2 linked regions of the Homo sapiens genome follow. Changing the gene in region 2 together with the main gene of any one other region gives a genetic interaction. Each region holds a gene or a part of one and is shown on either strand. Other genes may lie near its edges.

Region 1 (3,500 bases), on a different chromosome or scaffold from region 2:
TTAGGCTATTCTCTCATCTTGTCCACAGCATATGATAAAGAAAAAACTGATATACAAGAGACCAAAACACGTGAGAAATAAATACATACCTTATCTTTTAATAAAATTTCATAAGTTGTTAACAATATATTAAATTTTAACCGTTTGGTCTGATGATGCGTCCATTCATGAGTTCTTATCTATTAAGAAATTTGAAGGACAATTTTTAAGACAAACATCAAGCAAATTATACTTTTACTTACATATCTAAAAATTAAAATCCATTCAAATATGTAAGTAACTATTAATATATGTTTATGTAATAAAAGAGTTTTTGTGGTTTTTTTTTTTTGAGACAGAGTTTTGCTCTTGTTGTCCAGGGTGGAGTGCAATGGCGTGATCTCGGCTCACCACAACCTCCACCTCCCGGGTTCAAGTGATCCTCCTGCCTCAGCCTCCCGAGTAGCTAGGATTACAGGAATGCACCACCACGCCCAGCTAATTTTGTATTTTTAGTAGAGACAGGGTATCTCCATGTTGGTCAGACTGGTCTCGAACTCCCAGCCTCAGATGATCCACCTACCTTGGCCTCCCAAAGCGCTGGGATTACAGGCATGAGCCGGCATGCCCGGCCAGAGTTATTCTTTATATAGTCCAAAATGCTATGTAAATCTTATAAATAAAACATAAATACCACAGCATTTCTTAAAAAACGAAGTAAACACAATTTTAAAGCACATCTTTCACAAACGAAAAGGTCTTATTTAAGAAAACATAAGTGATTAATTCATTTAATAATGTAATGTTTATGGATGAAATATGATGTCTGGGGTTTGCTTCACAGTAACTAGGAAAGTCGTGTGTAGAGGTATAGACAAAACAAAACTAGCAGTAAATTTGTGAAACTTAAGAACATGAGTGTTTATTACATTCTTCTGTCTGTTCTCATGCATATTTGAAATTTTCCATTAAAAATGTAAAATAGGCTGGTATGGTGGCTCACGCCTGTAAATCCCAGCACTTTGGGAGGCCAAGGCAGGTGGATCACTTGAGGTCAGGAGTTTGAGACCAGCCTGGGCAACATAGTGAAACCCCATCTCTACTAAAAATATGAAAATTAGCCGGGCCTGGTGGCAGGCGCTTGTAATGCCAGCTACTTGGAAGGGTGAGGCAGAAGAATCACTTGAACCTGGGAGGTGGAGGTTGCAATGAGCCGAGATCACACCACTGTACTCCAGTCTGGATGACAGAGTGAAAACAAAAAAAAAAAAACCCACCAAAAAAACAGTCAAATATATATACTAAGTAACACTAAACCAAAACTGACTTTGTTACAGTCAATTAAACATGTACTGAGAACTTATTTGTGGCAAGTTCTATACCAGAAACAAAGACTGTTATACAGACCAAAACAAAACAAAACCTCTCATCCTTGTTAGGCCAAGAACGGTGGTTCATGCCTGTAATCTCAGCACTTTGGGAGGCCAAGGGAGGCAGATCACTTGAGCTCAGTTCAAGACCAGCCTGGCAACACAGTAAAACCCTGTCTCCACTAAAAAATATAAAAAATTAGCCAGGAGTGGTGGCGTGCTCCTGTGGTCCCAGTTGCAGTGAGCCAAGATCATACCACTGCACTCCAGCCTGGGAGACAGAGTGAAACCCCATCTCAAAACAACAAAAACACTTGATCTCAAAGACAAGTACATTTTGATTTCTACATTTACAGGGAAACAACTTACCATGTTTCTGCTGTTAATGTCACCTAAATAAACCACAGCATTCATTTGAGAAGCCCAAGTCTGAATTTCCCTTTGCCAGGAAGTAAGAGTGGAGAGCGGTACTACCAATAAAAAAGGTCCATATAATTGATGTTCATGAAACAAATAATTCAGAAATGAGATCGTCTGTATTGTTTTTCCAAGGCCCATTTCATCAGCGAGTATGCAACTATTTCCTCTACAAAGTTAAAAAAAAATTAGCATGCAAGGAAATATTCAAATATACAAAGAAACCTTTTTACATCATGTGTATATGTTTTTATGAAGTTAAATAAAATTGATAGGTATTATATAGAATATACCACTTTTATTAACTACAAATAATAAATGTAAAGGTATCTGGCTAAAGACTTAATCACTAATGCTGTAAGAAAAGTAAAAGGAGATGACCGTTTTGGGCCAGAAGAGGCTTAAAGATTAATAGTATTATGTTTAATCAATTATGAAGCCAATAATGCAATTCATCTACTAGTAGTAGAGTCCAGATATATTAAATAAGTAAAAAGTATATAGGAAGAACACAGATTAAAAAAAAAAACTATAGCTAAATTGCAACCGAGATTCACAAAAGTAGAGTGGGGGCCATAGAAGATAGAAAAAAAATGTAGAAGAGTAAATGGATATTAAAATAACTAGGAAAAAGAGAAATATTCCAGGAATAGCATGGGATGAGAACAGATATGCATTTTGATTTTTAAACTGAATAAAAACATATTTTAAAAAGGCAACAATCAAGTTAAACTCCAACTCCACTGGATTTTCTTCCTAGTATGTAGTAAGTATTGTTTATACAAACTAGGAAATACAAAGACTAGCATATAAACTGCCAAAGAGTCTTATTCTTTATGTAAATGGAAATCTTTTCTGAATCCTGTATTGGTAAATTCTTACTCTGTCAAATTAAATAGATGATTCAAAATATACTTACTTGCACCAAGAATGAGCAAGCCAATTTAAACCATTCAGTTGATAATCTCTTAATTCTAAGCCCTCATGTCCTCCAATATAGGATGGCTGCTTCTTCAGGGCTACAAACCTTGGCCTTTGTTTTAATACCTTTAGTAGAAATAAACATTATTATGTAGAGTTATTAAATATAAGAAATTATACTAAAAGATGAAAGCCTCAGCTTTACCATAAATTCTTAAATTTCATCTCTAATCATCAAGCTCAGAGATTCCATTACTCAAAATGTACCTGAGGATTCAGTCAATACTGTTTTCTACTACTCTACAAAAATGAACAGTGAAATATTTTGCCTTCTTTTTTAAACAAAAATGTATAGAGAAAATTAACTTCCTGCCAAAATATGAGTCTCATGTATTTCACAAGCAAAACCTACGTTAAATTGTTCAAAACCATCACTCCAGCCTTAAGCTACAAACCATAAAACTGGCTTAGCTTACCGTTCAATTTCTGAATTCCAAGTTATCCCTATGAAGAATGTAATTCTTGTAATAAGGAAAGAAAGTCTAGTAGTCCATAGATCTCAACACATCACTAGTAACTCTGGGTAAGTTACAAGGATGCAGAAAGTATTGTGCAAGGTAGTTCTGGATACTTTCCTATATCACTCTCCTTTTTCTCTACCTTCTAAGAAAATATCCACTATCTTTAAAATTGAGCATATCTCTAGTTTCCAAGGGTTTTTTTCTGTTTATTCTCCCAACCCTTCCTGACAATCACCATAACCAACTCATCTTTCTGACATAGTGATGCTCAACAAGATAAAAGACAACACTT
Region 2 (3,229 bases):
AACCTGGGAGGTGGAGCTTGCAGTGAGGGGAGATCGCGCCACTGCACTCCAGCCTGGGTGATAGAGCGAGACTCCGTCTCAAAAAAATAAATAAATAAACAAAAAATAAAAAATAATGCCTCAACCTTACCTCAGTGATGAAAAACCTACTTTATGCCCTACCCCAGCTCCATCTCTGCACTAAGCCTCCAAAACTGCACCTTGGTTCTTTCACGACTTCTGAGCTGATTTCTGAGAGATCCCCCAGTGAGCTCTGGGGCAAGCTTATTTCCCTGTAATCTCATTCTGACTGGAGGGAGGGGTGGAAAGCTAGCGTTATTTCCATTGCACCGTCTGTGGAACCTGTGTCTCTGCTCCTTGTCCCTAGAGGACTCTATTGTGGTACATATTAGCTTAGGAAAATGGCTGCATAGGCTGCAGCCTTGAGTTTTCAGTGATAAAAAGATGAAAAGCTCACTGGCTGCTCTCTTTCTTGGGAATAGCAAAGGAGAAAATAAAAGGATCCTACCCACTCTGTTGAGCTGGACATTGCCTACTCCAGGTGTTCAGAATTACAACTCTGTGGAACGTTAACAATGGAAAAAACTAATTTACACTCCCCTCCCGTGGACAGATAGTGAAACAGGAGACTCAGAGAGGTGATAGGACCTGGTCAAGGTCCCACACCTCAAAACTGGGTCTAGAACCCATGGGTCCTGACTGTGTCCAGTGCACCCTCCCTGGTGAGCTGTGCTGTGGGTGTCTCAAGTCAAGAGACTCTTGGGTCTTTCCAAACTGGAACTCACAGAATCCCCTGGGCTCTTTGTTTCTATTTTATATTACACATGAAAACTGGTCTGTGTCTTTGAGGACCTCATTCTATCTTCACCTTAACTCAGCTTCTGCATTGACAAAATACACAGAATGTAGTTATGTACATTCCACCCTCAGCACCTGCCAGGTGATGGCAACAAGATTAAAATTCCGGTCACTGACACTAACAGTATGGGGGTTTGTTTGTTTGTTTGTTTCATTTTGTTTTGTTTTGAGACAAGGTCTCATTCTGTTACCCAGACTGGAGTGCAATGGTGTGATCATAGCTTACTGTGTCGTCAGACTCCTGGCCTCAAGTGAACCTCCCAAGTAGCTAGGACTACAGGCACATGCCACCACATCTGGCTAACTTTTTTATTTTTTGTAGAAGTGGAGGTCTCACTATGTTGCCCAGGCTTGTCTTGAATCCCTGGGCTCAAGCAATCCTCCCACCTTAGCATCTAAAAGTGCTGGGATTACAGCCATGAGCCATCTCGCCTGGTCTCAGTGTGCCTTTTAATCTCTGGATTTGGCATCATTACTCATTTATGCCCCCCAACACACACACACACACACCCCCCACAGGCAGATACATACACCCTGTGGTGACCTGGAGGGAGCTCCTGCCTGATGCAAAGGGCCTTCACATGCTCTGGAAAGACTGTAGAGGAACACAGCAGAAGGCCAGTCCTCCAGAATAAACATGAGACATTTGGCACCAATTAAAGAAAAAAAAAAAAGGGCCCCTGGTTTTTCCTTCTTCCAGAGATGATTTGAAGAACTACCTGGCTGGTTTTGCAACCGGTAGTAGATAAAAGGGTAAGAAATATGGAATGAAAATGGCAAGTGATATGAGCTTCTTAAAAAGGAATAGTTTGGGAAGCTAAAGATTTAAAGTACAGAATAGATTGAGGGGTCCATTATTGCTCTTATAGCACCATCTCTAGCTTAAAGGGTTCAAGGTCTCCATAAAAGATGGGGCAAGAAGTAAGGATAACCAAGCAGAAATTGTGGACTCAACCCCTCTCCCTGAAGCTGCTTCCTTCCCTGATTTCTTCTCCCATTTCTTACTTCACTGCAAAGTTTTGCTCCTGCCCTGGATTGAATCACGCCTATCACTGGGAATGAATTTCCCTTTCCCCACACCCTTTTCTTTTGAGCTTTCCCAGCTCCAGTCCCATCTAATGTCTAAGCCAAGATGGCAGTCATGGCCCACGTACCAGCAGGTTGCTTTCCGTGGTGAGGTCCTGACACTGGCTGCTCTCCAGGCACCAGCCACGCACTTCCATGGAGGCCTGAAGCAGCAAGGCCAGCAACAGGGCCCCCGAGCGGCTGCAGCACGATCTCGGCATCTTCCAGGCAGGCTGAGGCTCTGCAGAAGCAAACAAGATTGGTGGGACCCCTGCAAGGAGCAAAACAATGTTGGCCACTCACCAGGAAGGACCTTGAGCCAACATTAACAACACACTCTCTTGTGGAGTTAAAGGCATTTTAAGGACAGCAGCAATGCTGAGAAAGGAGGTGTGCAGTACAGCGGTGGTATAAGTTGTGATAAGGAGGAGGGAATGGTGGGTAAACTGTGACCATTTCCCTGTTATCTTCTATTTAAACGAGACCCCTAAAAAGGTTAAGGCTGGAAGCTATTTTGGGGATTGCTTGGTTCAGCCCTTCCCATGAGAGATGGGAAAATTGAAGCCCAAAGAGAGACAATTACTTTAATGTCCATGACAAGGTAAGGCTAAGCTCCTAACAGAGAACTTTCCTATTTCACTACATTAAGCTGTAGTTCTAACATGCAAGATCTCAGGAGTGAAAGTAACTTGGGAAAAACGGAGGACCCTGAAACTCCTGCTCAAGATGGTCTTTTCCCTTTTTATTCCACCAGGATCCTATCATTCCTCTGAAACTCTATTTCCTATGAATATTAGGTTGACAGAAAAGCAAATAAAACCACTGGCCAATTTAGGCAGCATTTCGAGCAGCCTGATTTGATGTCCTGCACACAAATTACTCTGGTGATCACTATTACCCAGACTCCAGTAACTTTGGAGAGCTTCGTTTTTAAAGCAGATCTCAGTTCTTTGAAATCTGGCTCATCTTCTGGACACGTCACGTGTCAGATGTCTTGTTCTCTAGAGCTCTCAAATGTGGTCTGAAATGGCAGGATTTGAAGAGGATGCAGATGTGGAGGGGAAAGAGACCAGAAGGGAATTACCTCCTGGTGGAACAGCCACTGCAGATACTTTTGGAGAATCCAGCAAGTGCCTGTGGGCAGAAGCTGAGGTCAAGACACCAGGGGACAGTAAGGAGGGGGCATCCATGGTGCCCCTAGCCCCCTGTACCCACCCCTCTCTCCAGCACTACCCTCGCACTGCCAAATTTCCCTTAACCAGGTGGGCCCCCTGAAGCCACCTCGAGGCCGGAGATCAGCTCACCG

Evidence for each region. Genes that interact genetically often act in the same process or in processes that back each other up.
Region 1: changes in POMC (region 2) and CHD1 together harm fitness more than expected from each alone (negative genetic interaction), as found in Homo sapiens cells (one large-scale study listed by BioGRID).

The regions. Positions count from the first base shown.
Region 1 is NC_000005.10:98,894,508-98,898,007, forward strand, and holds part of CHD1 (chromodomain-helicase-DNA-binding protein 1), read right to left. Parts: intron 2,814-3,500; coding exon 2,686-2,813; intron 1,936-2,685; coding exon 1,719-1,935; intron 180-1,718; coding exon 90-179; intron 1-89. UniProt on the Homo sapiens protein: ATP-dependent chromatin-remodeling factor which functions as substrate recognition component of the transcription regulatory histone acetylation (HAT) complex SAGA. Regulates polymerase II transcription.
Region 2 is NC_000002.12:25,162,629-25,165,857, forward strand, and holds part of POMC (pro-opiomelanocortin preproprotein), read right to left. Parts: intron 3,058-3,229; exon of another isoform or gene 3,008-3,057; intron 2,195-3,007; exon of another isoform or gene 2,165-2,194; 5' UTR 2,145-2,164; coding exon 2,013-2,144; intron 1-2,012.